2 separate regions of the Homo sapiens genome follow, and region 2 is linked to region 1. The links come from fine-mapping of genetic effects on gene expression. Tissue or cell type: monocytes after R848. Region 1 holds a variant in brackets; the other region holds the start of a gene. All regions are shown on one strand. Distances are between the middles of the regions.

Region 1 (8,184 bases):
AGCCTCCCAAAGTGCTGGGATTACAGGCATGAGCCATCACACCTGGCAAATTTGCACATTTTCTCAATGTCTGTGTGGCCTTACCTGGGGTACTCTGGTGATATGGTTTGGCTGTGTCCCCACCCAAATCTCATCTTGAATTGTAGCTCCCATAATCCCCATGTGTCATGGGAGGGACCAAGTGGGAGGTAACTGAATCATGGGGGTGGGTCTTTCCTGTGATGTTCTCATGATAGTGAATAAGTCTCATGAGATCTGATGGTTTTACAAATGGGAATTCCCCTGCACAAGCTCTCTTGCCTGCCGCCACGTAAGATGTGACTTTGCTCCTCATTCACCTTCCACCATGATTGTGAGGCCTCCCCAGCCATGTGGAACTGTGAATCAGTTAAACTTCTTTCCTTTATAAATTACCCAGTCTCAGGTATGTCTTTATTAGTAGCATGAGAACAGACTAATACATATAGTTTCCTCCGCATCCCAAGGATGTGCACGTTAGGTTCATTTGTGTGTCTACGTGGTCTCAGTGTGGGTGTGTGTGTGTATGTACCCTGCAGTGGAATAGTGTCCTTTCCAGGGCGGGTGCCCGCCTGGTACTGAGCTGCCAGAATAGGCTCTGGCCACCCATGGCCTTGAACTGGGTAGATAGTTATCTTGTTTTTATTCATCTTTCTTAAATGTATATAGAGTTCACATTTATTTCAATGTAGAATATTAGAAGTGTTTTAGTCTTTATTTAGGAGTTTGGTCATGTTTTTGTGACCAGAAATATGCCATAGGAACTTAACTCTTGTTTATGTCAATTAGTCTACGGCAAAACTGGTTTGGTTATATGTAATTTTGCTTCAGTCACAGTTTCCAAGGACTTATCAACTACATTAAGTGAAGACTCACTACAATTTACTTCCCTTTGCCCTTCACCCTCCTTTTAAATATAACCTTACAAGCTCAGGGGTTCTGTTGTATTTGCTGATGTTTCCCAAATGCTGAGAGGAGCGACTGGCAGGTAGCCTCATGCTAATGTCAGAATTAGCAACTCACATGGCTTAATGTGTGTTTATTGATGGAATGAATAAACAAATGAATGAAGAGTAAAAGAGGCTTGTAGGGGCTATTTGGAATGTCACCAATGTGAAAAATTTGCTTCTGACTTAAAAATAGCTTATGTTCAAAAATGCAATGAAAAAATCATTTCCCTATTTTCATATTAATATATTCCCTACCATAGGGTTTGCCTTCTTTTTTCCTGTGGGGTAGGTTTATCATGATGATCACTACAGGTTCCTCTTGCCTTTCACATCATCTGTGACAGCTGCAGGCGGTTAGGACACAGATAAAATATGTAACCTTTGGGAAATGAAGCACCTGGGAGAGGATTTACCTGAGCTAAAGATTCCATTAGGTTTCTCACAATTTTGTCTTGGTCTTCCGTCAGGATCCTGTGAAGGGTAGCTCGCCTCTCACTGTCCTTCCTCAGCATGAAGAATCCAGAATCTTTTTCTTCAGGGGAAGGAGGAGCACTGTGATCTTCAAAATTCTCATCTGGAATGCTGAGAAAATTTATGCAGCATAAATCACAGTTCCCTTTATAAAATGACACACTTAACAACACACTTCTCTCACCCCAAGTAAGTCAGGTCTTTACCCCAAAAAGAGTGTCCGAATTCCCTTGACATCTCTTTCTCCGCAGGACTTGGCTCTTGTTTTGAAAGAGAAGGGGTCCACTTTCAACTCCGTGTCGGGTGAAACTGAGCCGTACTCACTGCTGCTGCTGGTGTCCTCCACCAGCACAGGTACCGGCAAGGATATACTCCTGAGATATTCTGCTTGTGATGAGAGGAGGGAAAAGATAATTGACACTTTAAAAAATGTACACATACTGAAACACCCATTGAAAGAGGCCATATTCTTTGTCAAATATCTTGTTGCAATGAGCAGCATAATTATGCTATGTAAGGGAACGGTCATGTGTTATGACTGCCTCCCTTGCTCAGCATAACCCATACAGCAGGGTAGCCAGGAAAGGGCCTCCCAGGCCCTGGGAGGGATATCTCTGGGGTACCAAAACAGTCAAGGAAGCCCAAGTTCAGTGGGTCTACTGAGGGTCTGATCCCCTCATTTTTACTGACTACTAATTATTTCTATTTATGGGTCTCAGTTTTCATATTTATCAAATTCAGGGTCAGATTGATAATCTTTAAGCCTGTTCTTCAGGGGCTTAAGTGTCTCCATTAGCATCTTGGGGCTGCCTTGGTTGGGATGAGTGAGTGGGATGCTGTAGGTCTAGACCACAGGTTCCAATCCTGTTATACCTGAAACCAGAGAAAATATGCTGACTGTCATATATCACAGTTCTGCTTAAGGATTCATATAAAAAAGGATTCATCACTGAAAACAAATTTTGGAAACAGATGGACTAGATGATCTCTTAGGTCTGTCCTGGTTCTCAGATACTATGATTCTCTAGTAGACATGAGCTGCTTCTTTATTTGGATGGAGAATAAGACAGTGGAGTTGCCTATATTTCCTCAAACATTGGTTTTAAAGAAAGCTTCATAGGTTGCTCTGGGTGTCAACATCTTTCCAGCAGATGGGGAAGAAAGAGTAGGAGGATCTCATAGGAAGTTTTTATGAATCATGCTTGGGTGAGTTGCCACTCGGGCCCACCATCCATTGCCCAAGCCTCAGTCCACCAGCCACAGTTACTTGCCAGGAGGCTGGGAAACCCCAGAAGGAAAAGGAAACAGGTCTGGAGGACAGCTAGTCAGTCTCTGTATATGTATGCCTGAACAGTTCACAGAAAGAAAAACACAAAAAGCTCCCAAATGTATATAAAACTTCTCAGCCTCACTCCTAATGAGAGAAACGGGTATCTGAATCACAATAAAATACTGTCCATGATCTATCCTATGGACAGATATGCAAAAAAAAAAAAAAAAAAGAAAGTGGTTTTTGCCAGAAACATCTTTATCAAACACACATCCTAATGCTACAAAAGCATTTTAATAAAGAATGAAGGTATAAAATTATAGAAAAGGAAATCCACTGTTGCCTGGAATCTCCTTCTTACTTAATTCCTCTTGGGCTGAACTGAATCAACTGCCCTGATCTCAAGGATAGGGGACTCATGACATTGGTTTCAGCTGTAGCGAGAAAGACGGAAGTACATACAGCTTTCAGGAACAGCTGACCTCGGGGGAAACCACCTTACTGGTCAGTAACTGGAAAGTCTCCCCAGGATGAATTGGTTGACTTATCTGCTGTTATTTAAATAGTTCTGTAGCTGAATCACTAGAAGGCAGGAAGCAAGAGGAAGCCACAAAGAGTTGCTGAATTGACCAATTAAGTACCAGTATGCAAATGATATATGGCAGGGGAAATGCCTGGCATGTATTGTTTCCACATATTCTGGAGCAGCTCATGGGCCTAGCATTTCACGGACCATATTTTGGGCAGTGCTGCTACAGCAGAAAGGAAATGGGTGACCTCTTCCTTGCTGGTAATAGTAAGGTTGTCTGAGAGAAGAAAGGTTTGAAGGGGGGCCCAAACACCAAACTGCTTTTGAGTCATTCCTGGGGAAGGTCAAGGTCTATAGTGTGCCTTGTTTCACTTTAGAGTCAACATCTCGCTATTTGGGGGGAACGGACTTTAGAACAGAAAAAAATAGCTGCTTGGGAGAAAGAGTTTCACTGCTATGAGATGTCAAGTCCCTAAAGTTAAATGTTACTGATGGAAGAATACAGCTGAAGAAGAGCTCTTGGCTTGACTGAGTAGCTGATCTCTTTACAAGAAGGGATACAAGCCCTGCAGTGGAACTCACTGCTGATCCTT[C/G]AGACTTGGTGAGTTTCTTCACCAGCCCATTTTTATGAGATGCATGCCACACTCAGAAACGGAGGTGTGCATCATTCATATTTCAAAGACAAAATTGTTGTTTCTTGGGAGTAAAGAGACTAGTACAGACTAGACTAGAAGAGTACAAGATGAGGGATTCCTATCGTGTGTTTCCGTGTTTGTGTGTGTGTGTGTGTGTGGTAAATGTATGTGTATCTAAAGAAGAGAAGGAGTAAGGACTTGAATTATCCTGTATTTTGGCTTTTTGGTCATATCATGTGGTTTGATTATCCAGTAATGAGAGGACTTGTGTCACGCCTGTGAATTTTAACGTTGCTGTGACTACCGACTGCCTAAAAGGAGGCCTAATGAGGTAAAACTGTATATGCTTAAGGATGGAACCGAGTGCCTGTCACTATGGCTCGTTAAGGAAATAAAGGGACTTACAGATATTCTGCATGTTCTATGTGCAGAGCCCTGATTCCCTCCTCGGTTTGATTTTATTTTATTTTTGAGACAGAGTCACACTATTTTGCTCAGGCTGGAGTGCAGTGGCATGATCTTGGCTCACTACAACCTCCGCCTCCTAGGTTCAAGTGATTTTCCTGCCTCAGCCTCCCAAGTAGCTGGGATTACAGGCATGTGCCACCACCCCTGGCTAATTTTTGTATAGGGTTTCGCCATGTCGGCCAGGCTGGTCTCAAACTCCTGACATCAAGTAATCCACCTGCTTCGGCCTCCCAAAGTTCTGGGATTACAGGTGTTGAGCCACCGCACCCGGCCTGCTTGATTTTAAATGAGTGAACCTGATTCTAGATTGAGTCCCCTTCTCTATTAGGCACATGCATTCATTCATCCAACATACAGTTGTGGATCATCTACTATATGTCAGGTAGCCAGCAGGAGTTGCTGATGGACTGGAGTGAAGAGTGTGAAAAGGAAGAATCAAAAATGACTCCAAAGTAGAATTCTGGCCTAAGAAACTGAATGGATGCATATCGTACTTATATTCTAAGATGAGAAATAATACAGGCCAAAAAGGAAAGTTCTTTTTAGTGGATAAGGGGTGTTATTTGACAGTTCAGTTTGAAAAATGAAGACGGCAATTGGGCGGCTGGGCGCGGTGGCTCACGGCTGTAATCCCAGCACTTTGGGAGGCTGAGGCAGGAGGATTATCTCATGTTGGGAGTTCAAGACACCAACATGGTGAAACCTCGCTTCTACTAAAAATACAAAAATTAGCCTGACATGGTGGTGTGTGCCTGTAGTGACAGCTACTCAGGAGGCTGAGGCAGGAGAATTGCTTGAACCCAGGAGGCGGAAGTTGCAGTGAGCCAAGATCATGCCACTGCACTCCAGCCGCCAGCAAGACTCCATCTAAAAAAGAAAAAAGCAATTGGATATGAGTCTGGAGCTCAGAAGACTGGGCTAGATAGAACCTCAGCAGCCTACCTGGCTGGAGATGGTATTTAAAGTAAAGGATGACATAATTTGGGGAAAGATAAAAAGACAGCATAGACCCGGCCCTTAAGAATGCCAATATTTAGAGGAAAAGAAGGGGATGAACAGGCAGCCAAGGAGAATGACAAGGAGCAGCCATGAGGTTGGAGGAAAACAGAGAAAATGGGGTGTCATGGAAGCCCACACAGGAGAGGGCGAAAGTAAGAGAGAACAGTCATCCAGGCTGAGAGCCACTGAGAAGTTGAGTAGGTTGAGAAAGGCACTTGTTGGATTTGGCTAAAGAGATCTCATTAGATCTTGGCCAGAGCAGGCCCAGTGATCGCGTGGAAGGGGAGACGCTACATGGGTGGGAAGGAAGAGGTGGAGATCTGGAGACACTGTACTTCAAGACGGGAAGCTGTGATGTGGGGCAAAAAAAGGTGGTGGTGTCAGCCAGTGAGGCCATTTGTAGATCAGGGGAAGGACGGGTTTAGGACAAAAGACATTAGAGCATGTGTATATGGAACTCACTGGGAGAGGCAGAAGCTGGAGGAGTCACGGGGGCTCCACAGGAGCCAGAACTCATCTGTGAGGGATTGGCCTTCTGTAGGAAAATGGATGTTTTCTCTATTGTAAGGGGTGGAAAGAGCAAGACAGGTGGTGCTGAGACAGTTTGCTTTATACGTTTGTGGTGGAAATATGATCAAATCCACGCCTGAGATTTCTACCTTCTTAAGTTATGACGATTTCCAGGCAAGTGAGAATGCGTAGTGCCTTTCTGTGTCACTGTAAATGGGAAGAAGCTCAAGTGTAACTATTTCCAGGGGAGCACGGTGACAGTTTCCAGATATCACAGAGGTTACAAGTTCCTCGAACATAAGCTCATACACGTGAGTGATTGGGACCCCAGGCTGCAAGAGAGGAGCCTGGCAGGATTTCCAGTCACAGGCAGCCTTACTGCTGATATCTTGCCAGGTATTAAGAAGCCCTCCTCTATGGGGCTGACCACGAAGAGTCTAAAAGAGGCTGAATGAACCTCTCTGAGGATAGGACATGTCAAAGGTGTGTCTCTAAGGAGATGATTCTCATTGCCTTATTTCAGGGGCTGATGGGAAGGGGTGTGAGCCCCATATCCCCTAAGAGATAGCTTTACCAAGAGGCCAGGAGTAGGCTGGAGTCAGGAGGGGTGACTGGCAACCCTATGGACTCCAGATTGCTGGGAGCTCCCATCTATGGAAGGGAGACAGTGCGACCTTTAAGGAATTAGATACATTCCTGCTTTGGGAAAACGGGGATTTTCTAAATCCCTTCCATTGCTGTGAGGGTGGCCTCAGATCCTAACAGCTATTCATGATCACTAGGGATCTTTATGGTTCTCCTTCTCCTAGACAGTTTAGGAACAGTCTGGCCACAACACAGAGTCTCCTAACTGGCCATCCTGCCTCCAGTCTCCAACTGGCCAAACATAGAATAGTGGTTCTCACACTGCAGTGATGACAAGAATCATCTGGGTTTACTTAAAAGTACAGAATTCCAGCTTGCACCTCCAGATTCTGAGAAGGGCCAGGCATTTTAATTTTTAACAAGCATTGCAAGAGATCCATGCAGGCAGGATCTGGGACCAACTGAGGCATAGCTATATTCCTAGTGCCTTGTGCCTACATTCTAGTGCCAAGTGCATAGCAGAGGGTTAAAAATGTTATGGAATAAATCTTACTAAATAAACCATCCTCACACAGCCATCGGAATGATCCATCAATAGCTTCACTGTCCAATATGGTCACTACTACCCACATATGGTTATTAACACTGACATTTAAATAATAAAAATTCAGTGCCTCAGCCATGGTAGCCATGTTTAGTGTCTAATAGCCACATATGACTAGTGGCTAATGTATTGGACAGGGCAGATAAATGACATTTCTCTTACTGTAGAATCATAGGTCCAGTGCTGGTCTATAATATTATTTCAGATAAAAATTTTCCCCGGCTCCCCAACCCTCCTTGCTGATTCCTTAACATTTCATAAGGAGCCCTTTGGGATCTGAGCCTGCTCCCCACTCCAGCATCATCCCTCCCCTTTTACTTTAAGCACCAGTGCTGCTGAGCCAGCAAGCCTCCCTTAACACACAGTAAAGTTTCACACATCCTGGCATTAACTCATGCGAGAAGTCGCCTCACCTGGATCTCCACTCCCCATTCACCTGTTAAGTTCATATTTGTCCTTACTCATCAGGTGCACCTCACTGGAAAGTCTGCCTTGAAACAGCATTCTCAGACTGACTTCAGTCACTGTCTCTCCCTTTTGACTCCTCTGCACAGACTAAACTATACTATGGTGGAGATGATTTTTTCCAGTGTTTTTCTCCTATAAGGTCAATGGCTCTTTAAAATCAGGAACTCTGTCTTTATCATCCTTATACGTTCAGGGCCTAGCACATTTCCTGTGCACACCATAACTGTACAATTAATATTTAAGCTGACATGAATTACTTAAATCTCTGGGTCTGTGTGTGGCCATGGAAGAGCAGTCAGGATGAGACAAGTCATGTCCCTCTCTAAAGGGGAAGGGGGTCTCATTGTCACCACCCTCTTACTCCCCTCTTGAGGGGAAGCCAAGTGCAGTTATGGGAGGTAGAGAACCTTGAGAGGTGGGCCTGTGCTCTGGACAGAAACACATATATGGCCTATAGAAAGTACCTGGGGAAGGAAGAGGCCTGTATCTTGTACTCATCTAGAAGGAGAGTAAGACGAGCTAATAGGTCATTGTTTCAATTGACATGAGGCAGGCCATTTCCTATAATACCTGGGAACAATCAAATGGGATTTTAGGCAAGGCATGGTGGCACATGTAATCCCAGCACTTTGGGAGGCCGAGGTGGTAGATCACTTGAGGCCAGGAGTTCCAGACCA
Region 2 (8,184 bases), 34 kb after region 1:
CCTTTAAAATAACCAATGGGTTAAAAAGGAAATGACCATGGGAATTACACAGTAATTTTTTAAATGAGAAGAAAAACATTATTTATCAAATTCCATAGATATGGAGTTAGGTAGATGAAAAATTTCATGATCTTAAAAAAATCCATTAGAAAATAAAAATTTAACATGAATAAGTTTAATGGTCAAGTCAAGGAAACAGAAAAAGAATAACATATTGCTACCAAGACAGTAGAAGAGAGGCTCTGGATTTGGCAAGATGGTAGACCAGATACCTGAGAACCTTCCTGCTAAAAACACATAGGTAAAATAAAACAGACATACTTTTAAATGTCTAGCTGGGCTTACTAAAGAGTAAAGGTGACTGCAGAAGCTAGAAATGAAGAGGAAAGGAATACTAGCAGGTAATCACAAGAACTCCTGCAGCCCAAAGGGTGGGGATGAAGGCAAGATTTTCAGTTTCATTAATCTAGGGCGGGAATTTGTCTGCTTTTTTTTTGGTAAAAGGTCAGATAGTGAATGTTTTAGCTTTGAGGGCCATCTAGTCTTTGTAGCAACTACTCAATTCTGCCATTGTGATGTGAAAGCAGCCCAGCTGATATATAAACAAATGGGCATGCTTATGTTCCAATAAGGCTTTATTTACCAAGATTAAGAGTGAGCTGGATTTGATCCTGGGGCTATAGTTTGCTGACCTCTCATGTGGGGCTTGGGTCTTAATGCCCAGGAGGGGATAGGAAGTATGGCCTAGTGCCTACGCCAGGCAAAGAGCAGAAACACACAAAACCAGGCCCTTGGTGAAAGGGTAGATCAGAAAAGTCAGCCCACTACACTGTGAAACAAAAAGAAAGCTGGTTTGTCTCAAGACTGAGCTCTGGAGGAGCAAAAATAGGTCTTCTCTAAACACTTTCAACCACAGCTGATCCTGGTGCTGTTTGAACTTCAAATTAACACTTATTATAATACTCATAATTGCTCTTGAGCCTGGGATATCCCTGGAGTGCCTGGCAGAAACAAAGCAAAAACATTTTCATGGCAGACCCCTTGAAGTTTGCTATGCAGAATTCTTACTGATAATGCACCACTAAAGTTGAACTCACAATCCAAAAAATATAAACTATGTAAGGAAACAATTCAACATCAGTGAAAACATATATGACAAATCTCAATCCTCAAGACTTCATTAAGTCAGAAATGATAGAATATAGTTATAAAATATGTACATTTAACATAAAGATATAAAATATTTAAAAATGAGAAGATAAGATATTCTAAAAAAGGCCAGACTTGAAAGAGAATTGAATACAACTTCCAGAAATTCAGCCCTAAATAGGAAAAATAAAAACAAACTCACTGAGATATGACATAGGGAAACTACAAAATACGAAAGACAAAAAGATCATAAAAGGGCAAATTACCTACAAAGGTAGCTCATCAGATCGCTCTGCAAACTCTTGGGTACACACGCATGACTCGAGAGGATGGGGCTGGGGTGGAGCATGTCCCTACCAGCTCCAGGTTATTTGTTTCCAACAGGTTTTCAGGCCCTTATAGAAGGCAGTCGGGTGGTGTCTTCTGGGGAAAATTATGCCTAATACAATGCTAGGGCTGGAGTGAGCACTGGCCTCCTTAGCATGAATTCTTCTCTGGCTCAGGACAGAGGCCAAGCTCTGGAAGGGAGATGACTACTTACCCATTGCCAAGTATCCAGTGGCACATTAGAGAATAGCCCTGTTCTGGCTGCCTAACATAAAGCTGAAGACTGTCTTGGTCCAGGGTAGATGATCAGAGTGACCAGGTGATAGGTGATCAGAGGGAAGGAACAGGCAGCAGGGATCATTTAGCAACATGCTCTAACTCAGAGTTAAAACTGGGCTCCTGCGAGGAGACAGGAAGCATAATCCAAACAACGCCACCTGAAGGAGCCCAAGTCTCCACACCCAATTCCTGTAGTCTAGACTTCTGCAATGCTGTGCCTGCCACGCTGGAATTCCACCAGTGGGACCCAGCCAGCAGCAGGTAAAGAAGCTCAACTTTGCCGATGTGCCCTCTCAAAGGATTAGAAACCTATACACTCCATCTAGTACCACCACCATTTTACACTACAATGCTTTATAATCTTAAAGGAAAAAAAAAACCAACTTTCAATAACCCACCTCACTTATCATCATAAGCATGTGTAATAGGTTTCTGATTACTTTCAATTTACAAATGATCAGAAATTTTTTTTTCCAGTGAAAATATATCAGAGTTGTGGTTTGAAACCAGCTTGTGAGATTCCAGATTTTGTATCCTTTCCACTACCTATGCATTAGGGAAACCCTATCATAGAATAAGAGCTTACAGGGTGATTATTAGTTGTTTCCAAATACCAGTGTTATAAAGATATTACAGTATATTGTTAATATCCATGGAACATCCATTTGCTTTTTTTTAGCAGACATCTGGTAGCCACTGTCCTCTTAGAATTTTGTTTTTTTCCTTCTTTTACTATGTATTTCAAATTTATTGCCAACTGTTCTCAGATTTTTCTTCTTAAAATCTCACAAATCCATTTTACCTCCTTATTCTCACCGGAGTTGCCTCAGAATCTCTGTAGAAGTAGCACAGAAGAAAAGCACTTCTCTGCAAAAAAAAAGTTCAGAGGCTTTTCTCCTCTCTTGTTGCTCCATTCCCCAATTTATTCTCCACTAAATTGACAGTGAACTTTCCAAAGTCCAAAGTTCCACATGAACTTTCCATGTCAGTGCCACTGCATCTATTTTATTGGCAGCTTGTTACTTTCCGGATGAAATCCAAACTCCTTAGCACAGCATAAATGCCTGCTATGGTCTGAATGTTTGCGTACCCCCCTCTTCAGCGCCCTCAAAATCTGTATGTTGAAACCGAATCACAATGTATTAAGAGTTAGGCCCTTTAGAAGGTGATTAGGTCATGAGGCTAGAGCTCTCATGAATGGGATTAGTCCCCTTATGAAAGAGGCTTGAAGGAGCCTGGTTGAGCCTTCAGCCATGTGAGCACCCACAGAAGGTACCATCTAGAGGAAGTAGGCCCTCACCAGACACTGAATCTGCTGGTGCCTTGATCTTGGATTTCTCAGCCTCTGGAACTGTGAGCAAAGCATTTCTATTGGGTATAAATTACCCAGCCTAAGGCATTTTGTTATAGCGGCCTGGATGGACCAAGACAATGCCCTTCAAGATCTTACGGCTACCTCTGTCATCCTCGTCTGGACACTTGAGCTCTTCGAGACTTGGGACTTCATCCTTAATTACTCTATCCCCAGTTTTAGCATGTAGCTTGTAGTAGATGCTCAGTAATTATTTGCTTAACTAATTAATCAAGTTATAGAAAAATGTGATGAGAACTTTTTTAGAAAAGAACTAGATCCCAAAACAAAACATTTAGAGTCATTATTGGTTTATTCTTGGGTGAAAGCATTTTTCCAATAGATATATTTAAATCTTTTTTTTTTTTTAAAGAGTGTTTTGCTCTGTCGCCTAGGCCGGAGTGCAGTGGTGCCATCATAGCTCATTGCAGCCTTGAACTCCTAGGTTCAAGCAATCCTCCCACTTCAGCCTCCTCAACAGCTGGGACTTCAGGTGTACAGCACTATGTCCAGCTAATTTTTTCTATTTTTTGTAGAGATGGGGTCTTGCTATGTTGCCCAGGCTGGCCTTGAACTCCTGGCCTCAACTGATCCTGCTGCCTCGGCCTCCCAACCACTGGGAGTACAGGTGGGAGCCATCATACTCAGCAGTTTTTTTTTTTAAAGAGATGGAGTCCTGCTATGTTACCCAGGCTGGACTCAAAGTCCTGGGCTCAAGTGATCCTCCCAAATAGCTGGGACTCAGGTGCACACCACCAGGTCCAGCTCTACAACAGGTATGCTTATATAGAAGAGTGAAGAATACATAAACCTTGATGAGGCTGCTAAAGTTTTAATTTCCCCTAGGAATCTAAGGCATCAGAAGACTATTTTTTAAAAGATTACGTATTAGATACAGATTTAAAAGATTATGTATTAGATATAGAAGATTAGATATAGAAGCTGACTCCTGTTAAACAAAATGGTGATAGTAAAATGAAAAGGAATTGTAAAAAGAGCAGTGTTATTTAAGTAAAACCATCTCTGTGGGTAATTGCTGCTTTGTTTTTCTATCTCCCCTTTCTATTCTTACGAGATAAAGATAGAAATTGAAATGGCAGTTTTGAAAGAAAGCTGAAAAGAAACAAGAGACTGGTTCAGCCTAGAAGGACAGAGAATCATCTATGTAATGTCCAGGAATAGTAGAAGAGAGGGTTTTAAAAAATAAAAGGTAACATTACATTGCTTATATATTTTGCATTCTATTTCTATGGTAATAGGTTAGCAAATCAGGTTGTTGCTAAGGGAAACAAGAATTTCATTCTGAGGCAATCATGAGAATTTTTCTAGAATCATCTCTTTATTGCTGTCTGCTCAGAACAATCAAAACTGGTAGCGGGAAGAGAATCAGTGTAGGAAGGCAACATTGACAAGGCCAAACAACGAAGTGGTGACTCACTGAGTCCTTGCACTCTCGAAGGAAACAACCACCTTAGAAAAAACCATGCACTTTCGGCGGGGGCTTAATCACATTAGGTGAGTAATCACCTCAAAGACCCAAATGGCAGCTCTGTTAATGTTCAGTCTGTATGGCCTTCTTTATATGTAAATGCCAAAACATTAATAACTACTAATAACATTAATAGAATGCCAAAAACACTGCAGGTACAAATATCTAGTGTGATGGATCTCTCCTCCCTTAGATCTTTACTCACATCTCACCTTTTTTTTTGAGAAGGAGTCACGCTCTGTCGCCCAGGCTGGAGTGCAGTGGCACAATCTCAGCTCGCTGCAAGCTCCGCCTCCCAGGTTCACGCCATTCTCCTGCCTCAGCCTCCCGAGCAGCTGGGACTACAGGTGCCCGCCACCACACCCAGCTAATTTTTTGTATTTTTAGTAGAGATGGGCTTTCACCTTGTTAGCCAGGATGGTCTCAATCTCCTGACCTCATGATCCACCCGCCTTGGTCTCCCAAAGTGCTGAGATTACAGGTGTGAGCCATGGCGCCCGGCCATATCTCACCTTCATTTATTTATTTATTTATTTATTTATTTATTTATTTATTTATTTAGAGTCTCACTCTGTCGCCCAGGCTGGAGTGCCTAGGTTCAAGCGATTCTCCTGCTTTAGCCTCCCGAGTAGCTGGGATTACAGGCGCTTGCCACCATGCCCGGCTAATTTTTGTATTTTCAGTAGAGATGGGGTTTCGCCATTTTAGCCAGGTTGGTCTCAAACTCCTGACCTCAAACAATCCAACTCCTCTGCCTCCCAAAGTGCTGGGATTACAGGCATGAGCCACCACACCCGGCCTAAATCTTACCTTCTTAATGAGCTTCCCAGGCCTTCCTATCTAAAATTGCACGTCCCTGCTACACTGTAACTTCCTAAACCCTTCCCTGGTTTATTATTCTCCTTAACCCTGATCACCATCTAACATACTATAGATGGTATTTTACTTATTTGTGTTTATTGTCCGTCTCTCATTAGAAAGTAACCTGAGTCTACAGCTATACCACCCTGAATGCGTCCAATCTCTTCTGATCTCGGAAGCTAAGCAGAGTTGGGCCCGATTAAGACTTAGATGAGAGCATGTAAGCTCTCAGTGATAGCAGGAATTTCTCTCCATTTTGTTCTCTGCCATCTCTCCAGCACATGGAATGGTGCCTACCATTCAATAGCTGTCCAAAAATATGTGAGTGCATTAGTGAGATCCATTTGGACCCACTGATGTGGATGAAGATGATTTTAGGCTGAAAACATCAGAAAAACAGCAGCAGCAGAAAAAAACCTTATCTAAATTTCTTTTGCGGACATAAGCAATGCCTCCTAAAATACATCTGCCATTTATTTCCTCTCCAGGAGGTTAATGACCAAAGAGGAGATAGACCACTTGCACCTAGAGGAGATGTTGCATAAACAAAACCTTATCAAAACTTTCTGTTCCTCACACTTATTTCTCATTAGTCTCCCACCATACACTTTCTTAAAGTCTTAACCCTCTTTCTTACTAAGATGATATATAAACACTCAACTCTAGCTGTTTAGGGAGCCAATTCTTTGTGTAAGTCTCTTTCATTGACTTAGCATTGACTACATGAATAAATTTTGGCTAGGCATGGTGGCTCACATCTGTAATCTCTGCATTTTGGGAGGCCAAGGCAGCAGCTTAGGCAACATGGTGAAACCCTGTCTCTATAAAAAGCACAAAAATTAGTCAGGCATGGTGGTGCACACCTTAGTCCCAGCTACTCAGAAGGCTGAGGTGGGAGGATCGCTTGAGCCCAAGAGATAGAGGCTGCAATGAGCCGAGATCACACCACTGCACTCCAGCCTGGGGGACAGAGGGAGATTCTGTTTCAAAAATAAAACAAAACAAAAGAATAAAGTTTGTCTGCTCTCCTGTCAACTTGTCTTTTGTCAGTTAATTTGCAGGCCCCTGACCATTGAACATAAGCTGGTACAAGAAAAAGGCTTTTCCCCGTTCCCAACAGAATGAATGAATGAATAACAAATTGATACTCATATCATACAACACTATAAGTGATGTATTTTCTCAGGCAGGGAAGTAACTGTGGGTATTCAGCTTCATATCTGCACAAAAATAGAAATAGGATGTTAAAAAAGAGTTTGCTACATGATGATTCCAAACTGACTAAAATAAATTCTGAACCATAATTACTAAGGTATATGAGGCCAATCATCAGAAAAGAAAACAGTAAGGTCTTCCATCTTCCTGCAGATATTTGAGTCAAATGAAAATAATGTCACTTTTTTTTTTCTTTTTTTTTTTTAGACAGGGTCTGGCTCTGTCACCAAGGCTGGAGTGCAGTGGCGCAATCCTAGCTCACTGCAGCCTTGACCTCTCGGGCTCAAGCAGAGAGGTCCATATGGATTGGAGGCCTTCTCCCATCCATATCTCTCTCCTCCCAGTTTGAGATATTAGGTTGGTGCAAAAGTAATTGTGGTTTTTGCCATTATTGCTACAACCTAATATTAAAACAACTCTGATTTTGTCACTGCCCAGCTTCAAACCCTTCAGATTGAATCTCTTTTACTTGGACACCTGGCACCATGTGAGCTCATGTGATTAAAAAGGGCAAAAAGCCACCATCCTGCCATGGGACATTAACAGTCCAGTCCAGTGCAGGCTACCAGATTACAATGCATGGAGAAGAGCTAGGCCAGAGGAGTGGGCCAAAATGCTAAGAGAACAGAGAAAAGCAAGAAGGGGAGTTGAGAAATGATTCAAAGAGAAAAGGACACAGGACCTGGATCTGAAAAATTAAGGCTTTGGTCACTAAGTGGGACTGAGGAGAAAAGTTTGTGAGGTTGGGCGTCTGCATGTCAAGCCCAGAGGCCGGAGAAGCATGGCCACCTGGAAAGTGGAAAGGAGGCTGGCACCGCTGGACCACAGAGTGGAAAGGAAAGGGGAAGCTACAGCCAGAGGGGGTGAGAATGTTGTATGGTGCAAATACTTCCTTCTACAAAAAGGAGCATCAGCTGGGCATGGTGGCTCGTGTCCGTAATCCCAGCATTTTGGGAGGCCAAGGCAGGCAGATCACTTGAGGTCAGGAATTCAAAGCCAGCCTGGCCAACATGGTGAAACTCCATACTAAAAATATAAAAATTAGCTGGGCATGGTGGTGCATGCCTGTAGTCCCAGCTACTTAGGAGGCTGAGGCAGGAGAATTGCTTGAACCTAGGAGGCGGAGGTTGCAGTGAGCCGAGATTGCGCCACTGCTCTCCCACCTGGGTGACAGAGTGAGACTCTGTATCAAAAAACAAAAAGGAGCATCAAAGGTTTTTAATCTGGGGAGTCGCAGGATTAAATCTGTATGAGAGATTTCTCTGATGATAACAGAGACAAAGCATGAGACATGTTAGGCTATGATAGAGGATGAAGACCTGAGATCAGGGGAGTGACCAAGAAGATGAAATGAAGGGGCTGCAGGAAAGAACGGGCATGAGGGATTAAGACGGGTTTGGGAGGGGTTTCTCAGGAATCTGGCTTGGGTTGCTGGATGCCTTTACTTTTAATGAAGACATGGAAGGCAGGAAGAAGAACAATGGAGACCAAGGCTGGTTAACTCTGATCAATT

Direction of the effects. Alleles are on the strand shown, and positions count from the first base shown. SD is a standard deviation of normalised expression in the study named.
As copies of G replace C in region 1, the expression in monocytes after R848 of the gene that starts at base 4,459 in region 2 goes down (large effect, 1.1 SD a copy in Quach 2016).

The links. PIP is the estimated chance that this variant, and not a neighbour inherited with it, causes the effect.
Region 2: MAP3K5-AS1 starts here. The variant in region 1 is fine-mapped to the expression of MAP3K5-AS1 in monocytes after R848 (Quach 2016, PIP 0.90).

What each region holds. Positions count from the first base shown.
Region 1 is chr6:136,590,792-136,598,975 of GRCh38, forward strand. MAP3K5 (mitogen-activated protein kinase kinase kinase 5) reads right to left here. Exons shown (of 30, transcript NM_005923.4): 22 at 1,646-1,823; 23 at 1,382-1,550. Among named protein-coding and RNA genes, the nearest start is that of MAP3K5-AS1, 34 kb to the right of the region's middle. RefSeq lists an enhancer at 3,698-3,857. The variant C/G (reference allele first, on the strand shown) is at 3,832.
Region 2 is chr6:136,624,656-136,632,839 of GRCh38, forward strand. It overlaps MAP3K5-AS1 (MAP3K5 antisense RNA 1), which reads left to right and starts at 4,459. Exons shown (of 3, transcript NR_125858.1): 1 at 4,459-4,621. The region is part of intron 14 of MAP3K5 (mitogen-activated protein kinase kinase kinase 5); the gene reads right to left. It also overlaps the pseudogene RNA5SP219.